7 linked regions of the Homo sapiens genome follow. The protein of the gene in region 1 purifies or fractionates together with the protein of each later gene. This does not show direct contact. Each region holds a gene or a part of one and is shown in the gene's direction. Other genes may lie near its edges. The genes, in order: MNDA, ATXN2, HP1BP3, SPOUT1, TENT4B, NOC3L and LARP1.

Evidence for each region.
Region 2: the proteins of MNDA (region 1) and ATXN2 purify together in Homo sapiens (affinity purification with mass spectrometry; one large-scale study listed by BioGRID and IntAct). This does not show direct contact.
Region 3: the proteins of MNDA (region 1) and HP1BP3 purify together in Homo sapiens (affinity purification with mass spectrometry; one large-scale study listed by BioGRID and IntAct). This does not show direct contact.
Region 4: the proteins of MNDA (region 1) and SPOUT1 purify together in Homo sapiens (affinity purification with mass spectrometry; one large-scale study listed by BioGRID and IntAct). This does not show direct contact.
Region 5: the proteins of MNDA (region 1) and TENT4B purify together in Homo sapiens (affinity purification with mass spectrometry; one large-scale study listed by BioGRID and IntAct). This does not show direct contact.
Region 6: the proteins of MNDA (region 1) and NOC3L purify together in Homo sapiens (affinity purification with mass spectrometry; one large-scale study listed by BioGRID and IntAct). This does not show direct contact.
Region 7: the proteins of MNDA (region 1) and LARP1 purify together in Homo sapiens (affinity purification with mass spectrometry; one large-scale study listed by BioGRID and IntAct). This does not show direct contact.

What each region holds. Positions count from the first base shown.
Region 1 is NC_000001.11:158,834,351-158,837,850, forward strand, and holds part of MNDA (myeloid cell nuclear differentiation antigen), read left to right. Parts: intron 1-3,500. UniProt on the Homo sapiens protein: May act as a transcriptional activator/repressor in the myeloid lineage. Plays a role in the granulocyte/monocyte cell-specific response to interferon. Stimulates the DNA binding of the transcriptional repressor protein YY1.
Region 2 is NC_000012.12:111,515,816-111,519,315, reverse strand, and holds part of ATXN2 (ataxin-2), read left to right. Parts: intron 1-888; coding exon 889-1,067; intron 1,068-2,952; coding exon 2,953-3,162; intron 3,163-3,500. UniProt on the Homo sapiens protein: Involved in EGFR trafficking, acting as negative regulator of endocytic EGFR internalization at the plasma membrane.
Region 3 is NC_000001.11:20,773,808-20,777,307, reverse strand, and holds part of HP1BP3 (heterochromatin protein 1-binding protein 3), read left to right. Parts: intron 1-557; coding exon 558-711; intron 712-3,500. UniProt on the Homo sapiens protein: Component of heterochromatin that maintains heterochromatin integrity during G1/S progression and regulates the duration of G1 phase to critically influence cell proliferative capacity.
Region 4 is NC_000009.12:128,823,295-128,826,794, reverse strand, and holds part of SPOUT1 (28S rRNA (uridine-N(3))-methyltransferase), read left to right. Parts: intron 1-165; coding exon 166-255; intron 256-361; coding exon 362-411; intron 412-642; coding exon 643-773; intron 774-1,745; coding exon 1,746-1,818; intron 1,819-1,925; coding exon 1,926-2,024; intron 2,025-2,620; coding exon 2,621-2,723; intron 2,724-2,900; coding exon 2,901-3,048; intron 3,049-3,500. Other genes in the region: KYAT1-SPOUT1 (uncharacterized protein LOC127739546), read left to right, coding at 166-255, 362-411, 643-773, 1,746-1,818, 1,926-2,024, 2,621-2,723, 2,901-3,048. UniProt on the Homo sapiens protein: S-adenosyl-L-methionine-dependent methyltransferase that specifically methylates the N3 position of a uridine in 28S rRNA. Required for association of the centrosomes with the poles of the bipolar mitotic spindle during metaphase.
Region 5 is NC_000016.10:50,159,806-50,163,305, forward strand, and holds part of TENT4B (terminal nucleotidyltransferase 4B), read left to right. Parts: intron 1-3,500. UniProt on the Homo sapiens protein: Terminal nucleotidyltransferase that catalyzes preferentially the transfer of ATP and GTP on RNA 3' poly(A) tail creating a heterogeneous 3' poly(A) tail leading to mRNAs stabilization by protecting mRNAs from active deadenylation.
Region 6 is NC_000010.11:94,335,833-94,338,939, reverse strand, and holds part of NOC3L (nucleolar complex protein 3 homolog), read left to right. Parts: intron 1-203; coding exon 204-332; intron 333-1,065; coding exon 1,066-1,163; intron 1,164-3,107. UniProt on the Homo sapiens protein: May be required for adipogenesis.
Region 7 is NC_000005.10:154,800,377-154,803,876, forward strand, and holds part of LARP1 (la-related protein 1), read left to right. Parts: intron 1-1,630; coding exon 1,631-2,023; intron 2,024-2,913; coding exon 2,914-3,037; intron 3,038-3,163; coding exon 3,164-3,369; intron 3,370-3,500. UniProt on the Homo sapiens protein: RNA-binding protein that regulates the translation of specific target mRNA species downstream of the mTORC1 complex, in function of growth signals and nutrient availability.

The sequences.
Region 1 (3,500 bases):
GCCTCCCATGTAGCTGGGACTACAGACACGCGCCACCATGCCCGGCTAATTTTTGTATTTTTAGTAGAGAAGGGGTTTCACCGTGTTTATCAATTTTTATCACACTGTTTGGATTCTGTTGTTGTTGGAGTTGATTTGTAGGAGTTGGCTGTATATTCTGGATATAAAGCACTCATCAAATATATAAAGTGTGAATATTTTCTCTCATTCTCTAGGTTCCCTTTTTTACTCTGTTAATTGTGTCTTTGATGTATATAAAAATTAAATGTTGTTGTAGTCTAATTTATCTATTTTATTGTTGTTGTTGTTGCCTGTGCCATCGGTGTCATGTCCAAGAAACCCATTGCCAAATCCAATGTCATGGAGCCTTTCCCTTTTGTTTTATTCTGAGAGTTTCATAGTTTTAATTCCTACATTTAGATATTTGATATACTTTGAGTTACATTTTGTATATGATGTAGGTAAGGGTTCAACTTTTTGTATACAGATGTCACAATTGCCCAACAGCATTTTTGAAAAGACTGTTCTTTCTCATTAAACAGCCTTGACGTCCATGTCAAAAATCAATAAGCCATATTTCTCAGGGTTTATTTCTATGCTATCTATCATATTCCATTGTTCTTTATGTCTGTCTTTATGCCAATACCACACTGTTTTGATTATTGTGTCTTTATAACAAGTTTTGAAAGCAGGAAGTCTGAAACCTCCATGTTCTTGTTTTCAAGATTAAAAAAGGCTATTTAAAGTACCTTTAAATTCTACATGAATTTTAAGACAAATTTTTGTGTTCGTGTAAAAAACACTTCTGGGATTTTGCATTACAGATTACATTGCAAATTGCATTGCATATGCAGTTCCTTGGGTATTGACACCTTAACAGTATCAAGTCTTCTAACCCCTGGACACAGATGCCTTCCCATGTACATTTGTGCCTTCTTTAATTCCTTCAAAGTGTTGTATAATTTACCACCTTGATTAAGTTTATTCCTAAGTATTTTACTACTTTAAGCTATTGTATACAGAAAAAGAACTGTTTCCTTAATTTCCTTTTTGTTCGTTGTTAGCGTATAAAAACACAACTGATTTGTATGTGTTGCCTTTGATTCCTGTAACTTTGCTGGATTTGTTTATCAATTCTAAGTATTTACATAGAATCTTTGGGACTTTCCACATATAAGATCATATCACCAGTAAAGAGAGAGAATTTACCTTTTTTCTTTCTTATTTGGATATTTTATATTTTCTGTTTATTGCCTATTTTTGGTGGGGGCGGGGGGTGGGTGTTAAACCCTCAGTACTATCTCAAACAGAAGTGAACAAAAAAATCATCCTTGTCTTTTTCCTGATGTTTCAGGAGCAAGAGAAATGTTTTCAGTCTCTTACCATTGGGAATAATGTTAGCTATGGTGTTTTCGTATGTAGACTTTACTATGTTGAAGTAATTTTCTCCTATTCTTCGTTTACTGAGTGTTTCTAACATGAAAGGCTATTTAATTTTGTCAAATGCTTTATTTATTTTTTGCATCAATTGAGATGATCATTTTTTTTTTGTCTTTCATTCTGGTAATGTGGTGTATTATCTTAATTGATTTTTACAAGTGAAAAATGAGCATCTGTGTATTTTTCCTCATCTTTCAGGAATAAGAGAAATATTTTCAGTCTTTTACCATTAAGAGTGTTAATTGATTGTTGCATGGTGAGCCATCATTGCATTCCAGGGATAAACCTTAAATGGTCATGATGCATAAATAAATTTAACGTGCTATATAATTATGTTCGCTAGCATTTTGTAAAAAAAAAATGCATCGACATGCATAAGGGATATTGTTTAGAAAATTTTATTTTTCTAGTGCCTCTGTCTGGCTTTGCATTGGAGTAATGCTGAGTCATACAATGAGTTTGGAAGTGTTCCCTCCTTTTCAAATTTTGAAAGACTTTGAGGAATTTTGGTCTTAATTCTTCTTTATATATTTGGTAGAATTTACCAGTAAAACCACTTAGTCTGGACTTTTCTTTATTGAGAGGTTTTTGACTTCTGATTCAGTCTCCTGACTAGTCATAATGACTGTTCGGATTTTCTATTTCTTTATGATTCAAAATTTGCAGGTTGTATGTTTCTAATAATTTATCCATTTATCCATTTCATTTAGGTTATCCCACTTATTGATGTATAATTGTTCAAAGTATTCTCTTTATTTCTGTGAAATCTGTTGTAATGTTCTCTTTTTAGTTTCTGATTTTATTATTTGAGTCTCCTTCTTTTTCTTCTATGTCAATTCAGTTAAAGTTCTGTCAGTATTATTCACATTTTCAGAAAACCAACTCTTTTTTTTATTGATTTTCTTTATTATTTTTCTAATCTCAATTTTACCTCTAATTTTTATTTTTTCCTTCCTTTTGATGGCTTTTGGTTTAGTTTGTTCTACTTTTTTAAGTTCCTTATGGTGTAAAGTCAGATTATTGATTTGAGAGTCTTCTTTGTAAATGTAGTTGTTTAAATCTGTAAATTACCCTCATCACCATATTCTTTGCATTTAATGAAATGATATGTTGTGTTTCTATATAATTTCTCTAAATATGGATTTAAATTTGACTTGTGATTCTTTGTACATGTTTCATTGTTTGTGTTGTTTATTTTCACAGGGTCATGAATTTTCTAGTTTTCTTTCTGTTGATTTCTACTTTTATTCCATTATGATAAAAAAATATACTCTGTATGATTTCAAACGTTTAACATTTATTAACACTTGTTTGGCATCCTAATTTGTGGTATATGTTGGGACAATGTTCCATATGTTCGTGTGAAAAATGTGTATTCTACTGTTGTTGGCTTTACTGTTTTGGATATATCTGTTAGATATAATTGGTCTATAAGTGGTCTATAATGTTTTTCAATATTTATTTTTTCCAAATTTTCTTCTGTCAGATTGTTCTACCTATTATTGAAAGTGGAACATTAAAGTCTCTTACTATTACCTTAGAGTTGTCTATTTCTCCCTTCAATTCTGTAAATGTTTCATATATTAGGAGCCCTGATGTTTTGTGCATGTATGTTTCTAATTGTCATATCTTCTAGGTGAACTGGCCTTTTTAACACTATGTAATATTCTTTGTCTCTTATAACACTTTTTGACTGTTATTTTTATTTTATCTGATCCTAGTATAGCAAACTCTGCTCTCTTATTTAATATTTCAATGGAATATCTCTTTTATTCCTTCACTTTCTATCTTTGTCCTTACATCTGTAAAATGAGCCTCTTGTATGCAACATATACTTGGATCCCCTGTTTTTAAATTCATTGTGATATATATGTATATATAATTTTAATATGCTTTTTGATTAGTAAGTTTAAACCATTTACATTTGAACTAATTATTGATAAGGAAGAACTTAGAACTTATTGTTGCCATTTTTTATTTGTTTTCTGTATGTCTTAATAGGTTTTTGTCTCTTAGTGACTTCTTTTTGTTGATTTTTTTCTGTAGTGAAACATTTTTAT
Region 2 (3,500 bases), on another chromosome or scaffold:
GTGCAGCAGTGGCAGTTGATAGTAGGAACTGAGGTCATTAAAGGACTTGGCATGTCATGCTAAAGAGCACCCTGTTGGAAGGAGATGGGGTGAATAAACCCTGGGGCATTGAGGACTGGCTGAGACACAGAGAACAGTTAGTGCACTGAAATAGTTCAACTGTGAGAATTTGGTAACCACCTAGTTAAGGGATGAGCCTGAGGTTTATTTGATAACTAAGTGACTTAATGGATGTACTGGTAAGAGAGAGAGGAAACATGGAGCAAGTTTGAGGGGAAAAACAGTGACTCCGTTTGTGCAGCTAATTGCATATGTGGGCTTGTGGGTCTTTCATTTATTCATAAACGTGTTGAGAAATACCTGCTACCTATCTAGTAAAGTAAGAGATGCATCCTCTCTTAAAGGCAGTCAGCTTAGAGTCTGGTGATTTGAATTGACATGTCCACTGATAGATGTTGACACTGTGAGACTGGCGGTTCAGTTTGAGGTTTCATCAGCATTGCCGATATTGGAGCCATGAAAAACCAAAGAACAGCCAGTGAGAGAAGAGATCTCAGAGAAAATAAAATTGAGAAAGTGAAGGACAAAAAATGTTGTGAAGATAGACCAAGATTGATGGAATCAGCCATAGAGAGGTCAAGTGGGATGAGAATGAGCACGCATCTGTTAAACTTTGTGCTTAGGAGCAGAATCTAAGGGAAGGGACAGTCCAGAGGTTAGAACTCAGGGTAAGATGGAAGAACAGGGGCATCTGGGAGTGAGGCAGTTTGGTTTAGTGTAGAACCTTTTTGTAACAAGCATTCCCTTCTGTCTAGATGACTTTTAGATATGTTTCATTGGCTTGGTACCTTTTAGAATAAAATGATTTAGAGGATCTCTCATTTTCAGGGAAAATAAATATATTCCTCCTGGACAAAGAAATAGAGAAGTCATATCCTGGGGAAGTGGGAGACAGAATTCACCGCGTATGGGCCAGCCTGGATCGGGCTCCATGCCATCAAGATCCACTTCTCACACTTCAGATTTCAACCCGAATTCTGGTTCAGACCAAAGAGTAGTTAATGGAGGCAAGTATTTTGACCAGACTTGTCAATATCATTGATAAAATAGTTTTCTAAATACTTAAAATACTTAAAATAGTTTACATAACTGATATGAATGTGCACTTTAATGATTTGGTGAGTAGCTTTCACTTCAGCATTACTTAAAATTGGCTTTTGTGGATATTAAATTAGTAAAACATTGTATATGTCATTGACATATATATTATTTAGCATGATGAAATATTCATGATGTACTAAGATAAAGTGCTACATTTAACCCAAGACAATCACTTGGCCAAAAACACTTCACATATAAAGAAATTGGAAACTTTGGGTAGGTTCTCAATTTTAAAAACACTGGATAATAAAATTTTTTAGACATAATTTATATGGAAAATTCTAACCTATGTGCAACACTGTGGTTAATATAGATCAATTTTCATTATTTGTTTCTATATTATGCTTACTTCAAGAAAGGATCTGAGGTAACTTATAATACAAGACATGATCAAGAGTCATGTGAAGAAAGTGACTAGAGAAATTTGCTTAAAAAACAACAAAAACAACCCTTAGTCTAAGGGTGGATGTTACAGTTTAGCAACTTAAGTAAAAGAAACCTGAATCTTTAGTAGGAAGACATTTTTTACTCTACCTCTAAATCTAGGTTGAATATATCTTGTAGGTTGTGGATCTTTTCCATAAATCAGGGATACTGAACAACAGTTCTATGGATGGTATGGAAATAGTAATAGCAATAGTATGTTACTAACTTTGTGGGAAAAGAGTGGACATTCAATTTTAGCTATTTAAATTTGGAAAGTTAGATGAAAATAGAGAACACTAAGTTTCCAATTTCATTTGTTTTCATTGAGTCTTTTCTCCAGAATTCCTCTCCAAATGGACACTCTTGAGTATTTTCAGTACTTAATATTGGGGGTGAAATTTCTTTGCTCACTGAGGAAAGATTTTAGTTGTTTATAAACAGAATTTTAAAGTTAAAAAACCTGAAGGGGGCTGAGAAATATATGATACTTAAGTGTGTGGAACCCTATGGAGAGGAGACCTGGACTGTTTGATAAGATTAAGGTAAGTGATATGTAATGTTAAATACTAGCTGTATCTTTACCTAGGCATATCCATCAGTATAAATTTATTTGGTGATGACTGCTTTGTAGTTGCAGTATTTATTAAGCAGTCGCTTAGATAAGTGTTTAACTGTATAAATTATTTAGAAGGTCTCCCTTTTTCTAGTTTAATGAGGTCAAGACTTTTTTTTTGAAATAGCAATGAATATTATCATTTGATACTCACAGGAGTCACAAACTCTAGAAGAGTAATGTTTTATTTCTACTTAAATGGGACTTGCTTAATAAGATTCCAAACTGAGTTCTGGGTTCAAGTGTAAACCTGATGAAAATCATAGATAATTGTAAGGAACCAGCATTTCTAATTGGATATAATAGCTACTGCTTATTTTCGTTATGCCTCAGAGTTAAAACTAATACAGTAAATAATCTTACTCCTGAGTAGGAATTATTGTGATTTATTATGTGAAATTATCTAGTGTATGTTATATTCCTTTAAACAACCAGTTACTGAGAAACAGTTATAGAAGCAGGATTAATAGGCAAAGTCTTAACTGTCTTCTTCAATAGTGTGTATAGATCCTAATTAACCCTTTGGGAACGTGTATTCATTTAAACAGACTTAATCTTAAGGAGGTTAAAGTAAAATGTGAATTTATGTCAGTTAAGTTATGCTAAAACTTATCACAAATCAAATGACTGTCCTCAAAGGGTTAAAATGTACAAGAAATCATTTTTGTCATTTTACTTTTTTTCTGTTTACTTTTTTCCCTCATTTTTTTCTTTAGTTTTTATACTTTCCTTCATATCATTTGTTCTGTCAGGTGTTCCCTGGCCATCGCCTTGCCCATCTCCTTCCTCTCGCCCACCTTCTCGCTACCAGTCAGGTCCCAACTCTCTTCCACCTCGGGCAGCCACCCCTACACGGCCGCCCTCCAGGCCCCCCTCGCGGCCATCCAGACCCCCGTCTCACCCCTCTGCTCATGGTTCTCCAGCTCCTGTCTCTACTATGCCTAAACGCATGTCTTCAGAAGGTACAATACCACAATTTGTTCATGTTTTTGTTTGTCTTTGTTTAACTCCTATGTGAGTTTATAATTACAAAATAGTTTCCTCTTCATTATTTAATAACCTATAATTTCTGTGTTTTAACTTTAGTTTATTAAAACTATTTCTATTAACCTTTTGTTCATTAGAGAGAAATTTGATAAATGTGTGAAGCTATAAACTCTCTTGAATTGTTGTTAAAAAGGGGGTTTATCTCTGCCTGATAATTATGCTTCTTTACAGCCCCAGAAGGGTCTGCCCCACAGCCTTCCCCCTCCTTATTTGCACTGTATACAGTAGTTAAACAAATGAACTTTCTTCAGCC
Region 3 (3,500 bases), about 140 Mb from region 1:
TTTTTTATTTTTTTTATTTTTATTTTTTTTTGGAGTTCTCTGAAGTCCCTGCATAACCAGTGCCTGGGGTTCTGTGTTTTATAGTAGCTACTCAGAGACATGCTGTGAAGGAAAGGCACAAATAGCAGCAGACCTCCATGTTCCCCTCATATTTCTACTCTTGCTTCAGTCATTCCTCTTGGAGAATACATGAGTTTTTAAATTACTTATTCTCTGAGATTTGCCTGTTGAATTATAAAATGGCTAGTTTCTTAATTATGAGTCTCATGAATATTGCAAAGTAGAATAATTAAACAATTGGGGATGAAATGAGTTTTCCTTTCTATGTAATTTCCTGGTCTATTTTTCTAATAATAGATAAATAACCACCTGACCAGGAAACTTGAGTGACATAAAGAATGTAAGAAAACTGCATTAGTGGTCATTCATTTTCATTTTAGAATTCATTTGTTAATTGGAGACTTTGGCTGGTCCGTTTAATAAGATAAGCTTTTACCTTTTATTGACTCAGATTGGAATACATCTGCTTATGCAATTCTGCTCACCTGATTTTTTAGAACCAGACATAAGTTCAGAGGAATCTGTCTCCACTGTAGAAGAACAAGAGAATGAAACTCCACCTGCTACTTCGAGTGAGGCAGAGCAGCCAAAGGGGGAACCTGAGAATGAAGAGAAGGAAGAAAATAAGTCTTCTGAGGAAACCAAAAAGGAGTAAGGAGTTATGTCTTCTTGCTATTTATATTTGAAGAATGTGTAAAAGGACTTTAGATTAGATTGTTTTAAAGTGTTATAACATTGGTTTATGCTAGGTATTTGCTATTTGGATTTAATTTTTAGAATTACCATTTGAAATAGGTTTATTATATAGTTGTTTGACCTGTTAGAATATGCTGTAGTTAGCAGAACACAATGGTTTGAATAATCCAAAAGTCTTTGTCATTGGCTTTGGAATGTGTTTTTGAGCTTGTAATTTATTGTGGGAGTATCTGATATTTTAAGCATTGGCAAGACTTCAATAAGAAATGAAACATAACTATAAAAATCTGACCTAGAAGACATTTCACTATTTTATTCCTACTTCTGTGCCAGGAGTGGGTTGTTTTTGTGTGCTTATGTTAGAAGGCATTGATTTGTATCAAGCCATTGGTAGTGTGACCTAAAAGTCTATATATGTTTGATGAAATATTCAGTTGAAGAATTGGCTTTGAGAATCTGAAAGTAAAATTTGCTATTGATGTGTATCTATATAAAGTGATGGCAGTTACTTTTTAATTTTTAATTTTTTTTTTTTTTTTTTTGCAGGAGAGCTGATAGTATTCATTCCACTCTTTTCATAATTGGTCAGAACAGTTAGAAATTGCTTTTAACTATAGTCATGCATTGCTTAACAATGGGTATACATTCTGAGAGATACATCTTTAGGCGATTTCATCATCGTGCCAACATCATAAAGTGTACTTACACAAACCTACGTGGTACAGCCTACTACATACCTAGGCTTTATGGGATAGTCTGTTGCTTCTAGGCTACAAACCTGTACAGCATGTTACTGTACTAAATACTGTAGGCAGTTATAACACAACGGTAAGTATTTGTGTATTTAAACATAGAAAAGGTACAGTAAAAATATAATATAAAAGATAAAAAATGGTATACCTGTGTAGGACACCTACCATGAATGGACCTTAAAGGATTGGAAGTTGTTTGGGTGAGTGAGTGAGTGGTAAGTGAATGCAAAGGCCTAGGACTACTGTGTGCAACTTTTAAAACTAAAAAGTTTTTATTTTTAGCAACTTTTAAAACTAAAAAGTTTTTATTTTTAAAAACTTTTAAAACTTTACCAAAAACAAAGACACAAGCCGGACGCAATGGTGCACAGCTGTAGCCCTAGCTACTTAGGAAGCTGAGGTGGGGGGATTGCTTGAGTCCTGAAATTTGAATCTAGATTGGGCAACGTTGTGAGACCTCATATTTATAAAAAAACAAAACTAAGACACATACACACACCTTAACCTAGGCCTGCACAAGGTCAGGGTCATCAATATCACTGTCTTCCACCTCCAGATCTTGTCCCACTCAAGGCCTTCAGGGGCAGCAACACACATGGACCTGTCATTTCCTATGATAACAGTGCTGTCTTTTGGAATACCTTCTGAAGGACCTGCTTGAGGCTGTTTTACAGTTAACTTTTTTTTTGTAGGTAGAAAACATATACTCTAATGATAAAAAGTATAGTATAGTAAACACATAAACTAGTAGCATAGCTGTTTATTATCAGGTATTATGTATAATTGTAATGTGCTTTTTTTTTTTTTTTGAGATGGAGTCTTACTCTGTCACCCAGGTTGGAGTGTGGAGTGCAGTGGCGCGATCTGGGCTCACTGCAACCTCCACCTCCCAGGTTCAAGCGATTCTCCTGCCTCAACCTGCCAAGTAGCTGGGACTACAGGCGTGCACCTCCACACCTAGCTAATTTTTGTATTTTCAGGAGAGACGGGGGTTTCACCATGTTGGCCAGGATGGTCTCAATCTTTTGACCTTGTGATCCGCCCACCTTGGCCTCCCAAAGTGCTGGGATTACAGGCATGAGTCACCGCGCCCAGCCAATATGCTATATTTTTGTATGACTGGCAGCACTGTAGGTTTGTTTACACCAATGTCACCACAAACAAGTGAGTAACGTGCTGCGCTGTGATATTACCACAGCTATCATGTTAACCAGGTAATAGGAGGTTTTCAGTTCCATTATAATCTTAAGGGACCACCATTGTATATGTGGTCTGTTGACCAAATATTGTTACACAGCACATGACCATAAAAGAATAACTTAGTAATAACTATACCTTCTAGCTATAATCTTCAGGGTATTCTTTATCTGAGTTTCATAAGTATAGCTAAGGTCTGTGGAATTTATAGCAACTATCGTGTGTGGGTGTGGGTGTGTTTGTGTGTGTGTGTGTGTGTTTAATGGAGATGGCGTCTCACTATGTTGGCTAGGTTGGGCTTGAACTCCTGGCCTCAAGCTGTCCTCCCTCCTCAGCCTCCTAAATTGCTGGGATTACAGGCATGAGCCACTGCACCCAGCCTATCGTCTGTTGTTAAATGTTCTAATGCACCTATTAGGTGCACAGAGTACTGTTATATACTCAGAATAAAATTTACATAATGCTTTAAATCTCACAAAATTGTTTTGATAAACATACTCTTATAATTCTTGCAACACCTTGGGAAATAGTTGGTTCTATATTACTGTTTTATAGCTGAGGAGAAAGACTCACATCATTTACTAAGATCATATAGCTAGCTAGTAAATGTTTGAGTGAAAATACAAACAAAGGTTTTCTGACTTTAAGAGCTTGAGTTTTTTCCACTATACCATATTGCATCTGTTGTAATTGTTAACTAATGTGCATTTTAAAATTCTCATTTGTCTTATGTACTGAGCCCTTATACCAGTGCTAATTTATGTGACTCCTTTCTCCTGCAGCTAAGAGAAAAAT
Region 4 (3,500 bases), on another chromosome or scaffold:
CATGCAGTGGCATGGTCATGGCTCACTGCAGCCTCTACTTGCTGCACTCAGATGATCCTCCCACCTTAGCCTCCTGAGTAGCTGGGATTATACGCGTGCACTTGTAGACAGGAGCTCTTGAAGGGGCCACAGCTGGATCCTGAGCCCCCATCTCTCTCTCTCCAGGACTGTGGAGGGGGAATTCACAGGAGTTGGGAAGAAGGGGCAGGCGTGCGTACAGCTGGCCCGGATCCTGCAGTACCTGGAGTGTCCACAGTAAGGGGGTCACTCCCCTAAGCATGAGGGAGGGGTGTGTCAAAGTGGAGACCAGGTAGGAGGCGGCTTCCCCTGGGAACATCCTGAGGTCAGCATTCTTTCCTAGGTACCTGAGGAAGGCGTTCTTCCCCAAGCACCAGGATCTACAGTTTGCAGGTAACGCTGTATGGGCCCGCCCCCCCATTTCCCCTGGATCATGCCACAGACACTGAGACCACCCAGTCCTACCCTGCGCTGTCCAGGTGGGAAAGCAGGCCTGGGAGAGCAAGACCTGTGTCTGATGCCAAGACGCAGGTCTGTGGCAGAGCCGGTACTCCGCTCCAGGGTCCCCACTGCACCCTGTGTGCCCTAGCACTTCCCAGACTCTTCCCGGCTCTGCCTCCACAGGGCTCCTGAACCCCCTGGACAGCCCCCACCACATGCGTCAGGATGAGGAATCCGAGTTCCGAGAGGGCATCGTGGTGGATCGGCCCACCCGGCCAGGCCACGGCTCCTTTGTCAACTGTGGCATGAAAAAGGTAGGAACAGAAAGATGGGCTAGGACACACCTCCAGGACACACCCTGGCAATGGAGGGCAAGCAGATGGATGTTGCGGAGAGCCCTGGACCTGCCCGAAATCCCTCACTGATGCAAATTTGGGCCAGAGAATTGTGCAAAATGGGGCTCAATAGATAAAGCCAGGAATGAATTTACTGTTGCTTAAAAAGCAAATCAACAGAAGACAGTCCTCATGCTCCAAACAAAACCCTGCAGAAACAAGTTGAAAGTCACTCTGGAGCTGCTCCCATGTGGCACAGAGCCAAGCTGGGATGAGGGCATTAATTTGCCGCCTCTTTATCCTCAAGCCTCCTCAAATCAGAGGCAGAAACCTTTACATGTATGGAGTCCCTTCCTGTCAGAAAGCACAACCCAAGCGCAGTGGCTCACGCCTGTAACCCCAGCACTTTGGGAGGCTGAGGCAGGCGGGTCATTTGAGGTCAGGAGTTTGAGACCAACCTGGCCAATATGGTGAAACCCTGTCTCTAATAAAAGTACAAAAATGATCCAGGTGTGGTGGCACGCATCTATAATCCCAGCTACTCGGGAGGCTAAGGCAGGAGATTCACTTGAACCCAGGAGACAGAGGTTGCAGTGAGCTGAGATCGTGCCACTGCACTCCAGCCTGGGTGAGAGAGCCAGACTCCATCTTAAAAAAGAAAAAAAAGAAAAAAAAGTTGCAGAGCTACCAAAATGTAGAAAACTGAGTTTCATCTACTTCTATCCTGTGCCATGAGCGCCCCAAAGGTGCATGTTTGGCCAGTGACCTGTGTTTTGCACAAATGATCTCTTGTGAGCAGGTTCAGCCGGTGCCAGGGGTGGAGGGTGGCAGGTTGACCTGGACCCCTTGGTCCCTTGCCAGCCCCGGGGCTCCCCTGGTGGCATCTGGAAGAGCCGTGGCCCCTGCTGATCTTGAGAGGAATGGCACCCATTTCTTCTGGCTTCTCCCCAGGAGGTGAAGATTGACAAGAACCTGGAGCCCGGGCTTCGGGTGACTGTGCGACTGAACCAGCAGCAGCACCCAGGTATCTGGAAGGTTCCCCAACCCCTGGGTTGGCCTGATGAGCTCCAGGGTTCAGCCACCTGCTTCCATTCCCTCACCCCATCTTTACAGACTCTGTTACCCCTCCAGACTGCAAGACCTACCATGGCAAAGTGGTATCATCGCAGGACCCTCGCACCAAAGCTGGTCTCTACTGGGGCTACACCGTCCGACTGGCTTCCTGCCTCAGTAAGGACAGACCTTACTTCTCTGAATATCCATCCATCCCTCTGGGAGGTGGCCGGGAGCCTTGCCTGACCCAAATATCAGACCAGGGTTTTTGTCCTGTCAACTTGCTGTGTGTCCTTGGGCAAGTCCTTCCCCTTCTCTGGGCCTTGTTCTCCCTGGATGCACTGCCTGGAATGCTGTTAAGGACTACTGAGCAAAAGTATCATTATTGATCAATAATGTTTCTGTAGGGTTGGGAATGGAGGCAAAAGGGCCAGAGAAGTCAGAGGCCCACTTCATGTTCTTGGTGCCTCTTCCTATCCAGTCTCTGCCCTGTTCCCCAGCCAAGCACAGGCTTGGTGTCTGCCCTGCTCAGTCCTTGACTTTCCAGGAACAGCTCTACCCACCCCTGCTCGGTACACACACACCCCTGCCTCAATGCACACACAGGCAGAGCTCTACCCACCCACCCCTACCTTAGTACACACACGCACACACACACACACACACACCACACAGCTCTTCCCACCCACCCCCGCCTCAGTACACACACACATAATACCCGGAGCTATGGCTTGTGGGGAGCAGGACCTGCACTGAGCTGGCCCCACCCCCAGGTGCTGTGTTTGCTGAGGCCCCCTTCCAAGATGGGTATGACCTGACCATCGGGACGTCAGAGCGCGGCTCAGATGTGGCCTCTGCCCAGCTTCCCAACTTCAGGTGTGTACCTCCTGGGGCTGCGGCCAGGGCAGGAGGAATGTGGCCAGGAACCTGCCTGGTGGGTGAAGCTGCACAGATGGGCCCCTGCTGTCTGGGGTGGGGAGGGACTGAGGTCTGGGCGCTGTGCTGGGTGGGGCCTCGGTGGCCGCTCAGGTGACCCCCTCTTACATGGGCCAGGCATGCTCTTGTGGTGTTCGGGGGCCTCCAGGGTCTGGAAGCTGGAGCGGATGCTGACCCCAACCTGGAGGTGGCTGAACCCAGTGTCCTCTTTGACCTGTACGTCAATACCTGTCCTGGCCAGGGTAGCCGTACCATCCGCACGGAGGTGAGCCCGCCTGCCTCCCCGACTGCCAGCCACTGGGGCCTTGGGATCTGTCCGAGGGGCGGGTGCTACTCTTGCCCTGTCACCCACCCTTGCCCGTGGCTGCCTTGTCTGGAGGTGGTCCTCTCATCCCCCTTGGCCTCTTGCCACAGCGACGAGACATGAGTGTAGCTGGGAGTCAACCATGGGTGCTAGTGCCCGTCCTGTGCTCCCAGACTGGGTGACCCAGGGGGCCCTGCCCACCCCTGCTCCGGGCCTCTGGTTCCTTAGCCGTGCGCTCAGTGATCTCCCAGGGCCCTGGTTCTGCCACTTCCTTGTGTGTGACCACGGTGGGCACAGCAGCTCTCCCCTTGGGGTCTCACTTGCATCTGTCCCACGGGGGAAGCCACGTGCAGCTGGAGCCTTCGTCCTGGCCTCATGGAACCTGTGTACCCACTTTTGGGGTCAGGCATAGG
Region 5 (3,500 bases), on another chromosome or scaffold:
TTGTACACTAACAATATAATTCATATTTAAGAATGTCTCAAAATTTAGTATACTGTGTTCAACTAACTTAACTTTCTTTGTTTTTTTTGTTTTGTTTTGTTTTTGTTTTTTGAGACGGAGTCTTGCTATGCCACCCAGGCTGGAGTGCAGTGGCGTGATCTTGGCTTACTGCAACTTCAACACTCCTGGGTTCAAGTGATTTTCCTGCCTCAGCCTCCTGAGTAGCTGGGATTACAGGCACCCGCCACCACACCGGCTAATTTTTGTATTTTTAGTAGAGACGGGGTTTCGCCGTGTTGGCCAGGCTGGTCTTGGACTCCTGACTCAAATGATCTGCCTGCCTTGGCCTCCCACAGTGCTAGGATTACAGACATGAGCCACTGCGCCCGGCCGCTAACTTAACTTTCATTCCACAACTTCCATCTTTTATCCAAAATCTGTGATCATTGAATACTGTCACCATTAATCATTGGCATTTCAGTGTTTGGACTTTTTTTTTCCCCCTTCGTCTTTGTGGACTCTTTTTTAACACTCATAAAGTTTTAACTATTGAAAAGCAAAGGAAACGGTGAGTGACTTTTTGGAGTCTGTCTACCCAGTGGTCACACAAAAGGCTTACTACATTACAGGAAAGATAGGATGGGAAAGGGATACTAGAAAATTCTAAGTCAGGAACGGGGGTGTGTATTAGAAAAATTCTGATCCTGGCATGCCAGATGGCCTTACATCTCAATTTCTTCCGTGAAATTCCTGCCAACAAATCATAGTGTTAGAAGTACAGAAGGGTCCATGGGAACAGAATTTAAGGGCTCCGTTGGTGATACGGAACTGATCAGATGGTTCTCACTTGTTCTCAGATAACCTGTATACTGAATATCACAGGAAGGGTATAGACGTCATGGCAGTGGTTAGATATTCTTGCACCTGCTGAAGCTGAGAAAATTAAAGTAATTTTTTTTCCTGTGGAAAGTAGAAAATCAAGCTTTTGTATGATTTCACACAGCTTTCTATTCTCTCTTTTGTTGACTCTGTTAAGAGTAACATTTAGTGGTGGAAACTATTTCAGGATCACACCCACAACACTAGAGACTGTATTAATCACTTACACACACATAGGTATAGAGTAATCTTGAAGGGGCTGTAGGCCAAAGATAATGCTTTTTTGAAGAATTAGAGACTAGTTACCAGCACCTGGTATTTGCTGTTTCCTACAGAGCTGACTGGACAGCCTAGAGTCTGCTGAGGAATTCAGAGGATGGCCAGTAGAATGTTCTTTCCACCCCAGAATATTTGGTAGGGACTCAGCTGCTGTGGAATGCCAAAAAGGCTTTGAGTTTGTTTCACTATTCTTAAGATTACACGTAATTGTTTTTTTGTAAGAGATTATATATATTCAAGTTGAGGATGGCTTTGAGTTAGACTTTCCTTAATTTGGAATCACACAGCAGATGATACATTTATTTCCATCTGATAAGTTACTTGATGATGTAAAAAGACATTTGAGTTAAAGATTTTTGGGAAAAAAGCTGAATGTTGAGCCATTTATGTTGTGTACTGGTTCCCTATTCACTTGGACAATTTTAAGTCTTAAAACAATCTTAACCATGTGCACAAGAGATTTCACATAGTATTTGGTAATTAAATTAAGGAATTCTAGCTCAAGTCATGCTTTTTGCTGAAATAGTTGTATATATTTAGTGCGGAAACCTGTGTTTTCAAATTAATGTAATAAAAGTTTCAATAAAATGGAAGCCTTTATTACCGTGTTTCAAATGCTATGCTAAACCTTTTCCATTTGTTATTATATTAACCTCCTCATACATAGCCCTACTAATTTTTTTACTTTCTATTTTGAAATAATTACAGATTTATAGGAAGTTGTGAAAAATAGTACAGAGCCCATGTTCCCTTCACCAAGTTTCACCTAATGGTAGTAGCTCACATAACGATAATTTAATGTCAAGAACCAGGAAATTGTCATCGTTGCAATCCATAAGCCTTTTTTAGATTTCACCAGTTTCACATGTATTTGTGTGTGTGTGTATATATATAATTGTATGCAATTTTATCATGTGTAGATCTGGATAGCCACTGTAACAGTCTATAGTTCTATATACAGAGCTACTCCATCACCTCAGGGCTCCCTATGCTACCACTTTATAGCCGCACGCACCCTTCCAGCAACCACTAATCTGTTTGCATCTCTGTAATTTTGCCATTTTGAGAATGTTATATAAATGGAATCATACAGAATGTAACTTTGGCTTTTTTTCTTTTACCATACTTCCTTTGAGAGCCATCCAAATTGCTGCATGTATCAGTAGTTCATTTCTTTTTACTATTGAGTAGTAGTCCATAGTATGGCTGAACCACACAATTTGTTTAACCATTTACTTATTGAAGGACATACCAGAAGGGTGGTTTCCAGTTTTTTGGCTATTGCAAATAAAGCTGCTATAAACATTCATGTATATAAATATTTTTATGTGAATATAAAGTTTTCATTTTGGGGGAATAAATGCCCAAATGTTTGGATTGTATGGTAAGTGCATGTTTGGTTTTTAGAGAAACTGCTGAACTATTTATTTTCTAGAATGACTATATCCTCTTATATTCCTATCAACAATATATGAGATATCCAGTTTCTCTGCATCCTTGCTAGCATTTAGTGTTACCACTTTTTTATTTGAGCGGTTCTAATATGTGTAGTGATAGCCTGTTTTGCCTTATATTAATCAATAAAAATAGCCTCATCTAATCTTAACTTTTTTTATTTTAAAACATCTTGGCAGTATTGAACTTTCTCAATGAAAAATCTCTAAAATTGTGACTTGAAAGGCTTTAATTTTCCAGTTTTTCTTTGGTTTTACTCTTAGCAGTAACATTTTAACTTTTTTTTGTCTTTGAAGTAATTTTCAGTGTTTCCTTTACATGTTGCTTTTTCTTAGAAACTAGTTACTAGCATGAAGTAGATCTTTAGCCTCGTTTTCTAAAAACATAAAAAAGTAAAACTGTGGGGTTTATTTCAAAATTGAGAGTCCTGTCTTTTCATATGAGGATATTTTATAGTCTGTTGGCTTGGCTATATTTTAGGGAGTAAACCTGTGGTTAGTGGTTTGTTGTTGGTGGTGGTAAAGTTTTCTTACAGTATTTTTATACCTGAATAATACCTTTAGACTCTATAGAATAGATACTTGATCTTCAAATCTATCCTAGAATAAATTGTTTTATCTAAACAGCTTTGTGACCTGAGAATTGGGACTTAGTCCCTTAGTTTTCCCTTACTGGCCCTTTGTAGTCACTGTTTTGATTTTGTGAAAGTAACTTAACTCTTAGCACTGTCAGGTATTGTACATTCCTGCCAAAGCAAGAATAAGAATACATAGGATTGTGTTTTAATTCTATAATTAGGTGACTTTTGGCTAATTTCCAGGAACTTGGACTTAATAAAGTACTAGTGATAAGTTTGGAAATTTTAGTGTCCTTGTTCTTTGAAGTTA
Region 6 (3,107 bases), on another chromosome or scaffold:
CAAGCAAAGATAAAATTTTTTTTTGCAACTCTTGTTCTTACTATATAAACTTAAATTGTTTTTTATTAAATCTAGGTGTAAAGACTTTATGCAAAGCTCTTATACAACCATAAATTTAAATGCAAATACAACTACAAACCAGTAACACCTCTTATATTAACAATGTTAATTTAACCAATTCTTTTTATGTGACATTTTTGCAGACTTTCCCCAAAACAGATCTACTGCTTGACAGTGAATCTCAGGGAAGTGGAGTTTTCCTTCCTGAACTGGATGAGCCTGAGTACTGCAATGCTCAGAACACTGCTCTGTGGGAACTGCATGCTCTGCGGGTAAGAGTGGCCCTGGTTTTTTTCTTTTTGGGGATGTTTGTGAATAATTGTTTTCCAGTTTTTCTTCAAATAGTTGTTATTGCCAGAGTACTTAATTATATTTTGTTCTGGGGCTGCCTTTTTTAGAATTCCTGTGTTAGTATGCTACATTTTACTTTGCTGTTACTATTCTTTAAGCTGTTGAGGTACATTTTCTAAGGAAGCAGAAAACAGTGTCAGTTCTGTAGGGTGCAGTTGTGGAAGATTTACTGAAACCTTTCCCTTTATTGAAATCTTTCCCTAACACTCTTCAGAGGATTTGTTATCAGGTACATTTCTGTTGAGTCTTATCCAAGGAGACTTTAGTAAGCCCTGTTTCAAGATGGTTTCACCTATGCAGTGATCCTACAGTATGGACAGCATTAGAGTGAGACTTGTAGAAAATAGAAGTGGCAGGTAACCTGTTGTAAATTAACTTTTTTCACTCTGAAAGAGGAATTGCTTTTTGATTTTTCTATTTATATTGTAAAAGCAAGACTAAACTACTTCACTGGTAACTTGATTTGTGTTTTAATCCTATTAGCAAAGATAATATTCTTTCTGTGGGTATGTGCTTCTAATGAATTACATATACTGTACATAGGTGATGAAAAAAAATTTGGTGTAATTTTATTTAAGAAAATCTTTGCTGTGGCTAGTGTTTTTTGTAAAGGACTGACCTGTGCAGAATGTGATTGTCCCGTTTTCCCTTCAGAGGCATTATCATCCCATAGTGCAGAGATTTGCAGCCCACCTGATCGCTGGAGCACCTTCTGAAGGCTCTGGAGCACTCAAACCAGAGTTGAGTCGAAGGTAATATTTAGCATTGCCTTATTCTAAAACTACAGAATTGAGCTGATAGCCACTTACTATGAGAAGACTGTTTCATAAAGTAACATACTACAAAATGTAAAGTGCCAGTTGGGTATCTGGATTGGTCTTGCTTCATATTCCTGAATTGTTCTGAAAGAAAACATGCTATGATTTTGTTGATCACTTAAAACATTTTTTTTCTTCTTCTGTCATTCAACTTGAAAAACATTTTTTTAATCGTGAAAAGTTTCGCACATACAGGATAGTAGAATGGCATAGTGAATGTCCATATGCCCCCCATCACTCAGGTTCAACAATGAATAATCTATGGCTATAGGTGCTTCATGTGAAGATAAAACACAAGTCAACCAAATTAAGCTTCCTTGCTTTCTCGCTCGCTCGGTCTTTTTTTTTTTTTTGAATGGCCCTGTTAGGGCAGGATGAGGAGAAAAAAAAAATGAGGAGAGGGAAGAAAAGAGGTGCTTTGGAACACTGCCATCCAGAAGGGCAGCTTTTTCTTTTTTTGGCCCTTGCAGAGTACCTTCTGACCTATAAGCAGCTTGGATGGGTACTTCCAGCATCTACCTCACACCCAGATGGGGAAAAGGTCCTCCTAAAAGAGTCTTCTTTTCCCTGAACTGTTTACTTACAAAATTTTCACAAGTACAGAAAGGTGAAAAATAGTAATTACTTTTTTTTTTTTTTTTTGAGATGGAGTCTCACTCTGTTGTCCAGGCTGGAGTGCAATGGCGCAATTTCGGCTCACTGCAACCTCCGCCTCCCGGGTTCAAGCGATTCTCCTGCCTCAGCTTCCCGAGTAGCTGGGATTACAGGCACCCGCCACCATGCCCAGCTAATTTTTGTAATTTTTGTAGAGATGGGGTTTCACCATGCTGGCCAGGCTGGTCTCGAACTCCTGACCTCAGGTAATCCACCTACCTTGGCCTCCTAAAGTGTTGGGATTACAGGCGTGAGCCACTGTGCCCAGCCAGTAATTACCTTTTTTTAAATACAGACAGGAAATACTTAAGTTATACAGAGAAAGAGAGAAAATGGTATAAAAAATCCCTCAGTCCATTTATGGTGCCATAAAAAATGCCTAAGACTGGGTAACTTATAAACAACAGAGGGCCAGGCTCAGTGGCTCACGCCTGTAATCCCAGCACTTTGGGAGGCCGATGCGGGTGGATCACCTGAGGTCAGGAGTTCAGGACTAGCCTGGCCAACATGGTGAAACCCCATCTCTACTAAAAATACAAAAATTAGCCAGGCGTGGTGGTGGGTTCCTGTAGTCCCAGCTACTTGGGAAGCTGAGGCAGGAGAATTGCTTGAACCCGGGAGGCGGAGATTGCAGTGAGTCGAGATCTCGCCATTGCACTCCAGCCTGGGTGACAAGAGCGAATCCGTCTGAAAAAAAAAAAACAGAAATTTATTTTCTCAGAATTCTGGAGGCTGGGAAGTTGAAGATCAAGGTGCTGGTAGGTTTGGTTGACTGATGAGGGCGCCTCTCTGCTTCTGAGATGGCATCTTGTTGCTGCATCTTCTGGAGGGGAGGAACCCCATGCCCTCACATGGCAGACAGGACAGAATGGGAGCAGTGCCACAGCTTCACTTCATGAAGCCTCTTCTATAAAGACTTTAACCCATTTATGCCAGAGGTTGCAAATTTTTTTTGTGTGTGAAAAATCAGACCTTGGCGATGACCTTGAGCAGTAGGATATAAATAACTCCTACAAGCTTAGTGTTCTGATAATGGAACACTAGTAGGCATAAATGGGTTAATCCCATTCATGGCTTAATCACCTTTTAAAGCTTTTGCCTCTTAATACCATCACATTGACTGTTAAGTTTCCGTATCTGAATTTTGGAGGGGACACATTGAAACTATAGCACCTTACAATGTACTCATTACCCAGAATTAATATTTTGCTGTAGGTTTTTTCC
Region 7 (3,500 bases), on another chromosome or scaffold:
CGTTTTTGGTGTCTTTTCCCTGAGTATGTCCCCACTATCATGTATGTAAGCCCCTTAGGTCCTCAGAAGAAGGAAGGGAGAGGGAGCAGATGCATGGCCCAAATATGGAGTTAGTCTACACAAGTCTGCTGCACTAATGGCAAGGTGACCTTGGGAAGCCTGTTCATACCTCAAGGCTTCAGTTTCTCCATCTGCAGATGAAAGGAAGGAGACATTAGAATATTCTAGAAATAGTTTATATATATAAACAGATGAAGTTCACTGTTAAAGAAGTATTGCAATCTCTAACTAAAATTACTACTTCCTTTTTAAGTGCTGAATTTTTCTCCACATACCTGCTCACTGTCACCCACTTTGGAGACCTCTGGCCTGGGGCTTGTGAGGAGACTGCAGAATTGACCTTGAACTTTGGGTCTATGGAATTCTATACTCCCTTATCTATTTTCCCACAGTGATTACCTCTCATCTCCTTTCTCTTGCCTGCCTGTTCATACACAGAATTCCCCACAGTTGTGGCTTCAGCCCTCAAAAAGTGTTGGAGATCCAGCCAGAGACATGAGGAGAAAGGTAGTAAGTAGATGAGGGTTTTACAAAGTCCAGGCCTACAAAGTTTTGTTTGAAACAGGGGTCAGACTTAGCTCCCATTCCAGAATTAGAGCCCCTACTCTGACCTGGTCTATCTTAAACCTTAAAAAAAGATAGGTTTAGAGTTTATGTGCTCTTGGCACAGCAGGGAATCTACTTTTGAATAAATACTGTGGGTTTAGACAAATGCTTCTCTCTCAGCGTCTCATATTCAGTCTATCAAAACAAATAGTTTTTCTTTGCTGAAGGCACCGTGTTTTCTCTTGCCTTTGGAACAATGGTATTCTTTCTGCCTAGTCTGTCCCTATCTTCATCTGGCTTACTTATGTTCATCCTGTGGTAGTCACTTCTTGAAGGAGGCCTTCCGTAACCATTCTTAGTCACAGTTGACTAAGCTCCTTTAACTGTGTGCATCCACAAACCTGCTTATAGCCTTTACCATACCACAATGCAGTTGGCTGTTTGGTTGACTTTCTCCCATTGAGCTCCCTAAGTAACAGGGACCTTGTCTTATTCTGCTTTTAGGTTTTTCATACAGAGCTTAGGACTAATGGGTACTCCCTCATTTATTATATAATTGAACATCTGGTATTACCAGATCCCCGTCTAGGTACTGAGTATATAATGGAAAGCAAGGCAGCTGTGGATCATGGAGCTTCCAGTTTATTGGGAGATGTTGAATAGATGGATAAGTGGATGAATCAACCTGCTGAACTTCTGTGTGTCCACTCCTAAGCTAGGTGCTATGTAGGATATAAAGGTAAATGAGAGCACAGTTCCTGCCTATAGAGAAGTCATCATCAGTTGTTTGTGCATGACTGTGATATGAGCTGTGAGTGGAGGAACCTGGACTTCTATGAAACATCCTTTCTCATAGTCATAAAGCTGACTCCCAGGATGACGCTTGTGACCTGCTGGTGTTACCAGGGTCATAGTTGAACAGTCTTATGTTGAGAGGCTGGAGCTTCCCTCTCATGGTATAGCTACAGAATCTGGGCCAAGGATCTCTGGTGATTCCTTTTCCCCTTCGTCTGTCCTATTTTAGAAGTCAGAGGAGTCCAGATTTTCCCACCTGACCTCTCTGCCTCAGCAGCTGCCTTCCCAGCAGCTGATGTCCAAGGATCAGGATGAGCAAGAGGAACTGGATTTTCTGTTTGACGAGGAGATGGAGCAGATGGATGGGCGGAAGAACACCTTCACTGCCTGGTCTGATGAGGAATCTGACTATGAGATTGATGACAGGGATGTCAACAAGATCCTCATTGTCACCCAGACACCACATTACATGCGCCGGCACCCAGGGGGGGACCGCACAGGCAACCACACCTCGCGTGCCAAGATGAGCGCCGAACTGGCCAAGGTCATTAATGATGGCCTCTTCTACTATGAGCAGGACCTGTGGGCTGAAAAGTTTGAACCTGAGTATTCCCAGATCAAGGTGAGGCTTGGACATAGCAGTGAGTGTGGAGCCTGGTGTGCCTGTATTGTACGGAGAAGAGGAAGCCTGATTAGCTGTGCAATTTTAGGCAGGTCCTTATAATTCAGAGTCTCAGGATTTTTATATATGGGAAGGGGATGATGACTGACATCTAGCTTGGGCATTAGGAGTGAGGGGTGATGTGTAAACACTGCAAACTCTTCAGGTGAGGCGGTGGTGATTATTATCCTATCTGCGGATCCATAGTTAATATTCTGACAGTTGGCTAGACACTTTTGTGGGGAACAGAAAAAGGGTTAGATTGTTATTTCTAGTCTTAAATATTTAGGCATCTAAAAATTTAGAAGCCTTTTAAGAAGCTTGTGTTGAGTATGGAAAATGGAGAAAAGATAAGTCTTTTGAAAAATTGCTGCTGCCTGGAAATAGTCAAAACATCTCTGTTGTGGGATTTTAGAGTGGGTATGTTTGGTGGTAGGTTGTCCTAGGGTGAGCCTTTGTAATAAGTAGCAGTGTGTTTCCTGGAAGTAAGGAGGAAGGAGAGTTGCCCAGCCACTGTGTGATAAGGCAGTAGCAGAAAGAGAGATGGGGAAACACTGGAGCTTTCAGGGGGGAGTGTGTAGTGAGTTCCTGAGGAGCTACTGTCAGCCTGATCTCAGTCTTACTACAGGGAGGGCAGGGCAAGCACTGTCTTCTTCTGGGCTAGCACACTTGTGCCAAGGTAACTGGGGTGAGGAATGGTGACTGGGCAGCTGAGAGCCTGGGGACCAGAATTCCACGTATGTCGACGTGGGAGCTGCCCTCTCCAACTTCCTGCCAGTCTTGATTCCTTAAACAGGCTAGAGCAGCCTGCTTACTTACATCTTTCCCCACTCATCTCATGACCTCTGCAGCAAGAAGTCGAGAACTTCAAAAAGGTCAATATGATCAGCCGGGAGCAGTTTGACACACTGACCCCTGAGCCCCCTGTGGATCCCAACCAGGAAGTTCCTCCTGGGCCACCTCGGTTCCAGCAAGGTGAGAAGCAGACACCTGAGATCCTGACATGGGTGAGAGGATCTAGGGCCCTTGGACTGGGGGCTATCCTGGGGTGGATGCCACAGGCCTTTCCCTGCTTCCTGACTCCTCTCTCTGCCTCTGCAGTTCCTACGGATGCCCTGGCCAACAAGTTGTTTGGTGCTCCTGAGCCCTCCACCATCGCCCGCTCTCTACCAACCACTGTCCCAGAGTCACCAAACTACCGCAACACCAGGACCCCTCGCACTCCCCGGACACCACAGCTCAAAGACTCAAGCCAGACATCACGGTTTTACCCAGTGGTGAAAGAAGGACGGACACTGGATGCCAAGGTGAGGCATTCCTGTCGGGCTGCTCAGAGTCTTGGGTCTACTTCATTGCATTCCAGTGCTTTGCTTCTCTCCCTTGCCTTGTCTGAGCTAAGGAAGTGCTAAATCCTTCACCTGCTCTGTGTTCTGAGGCT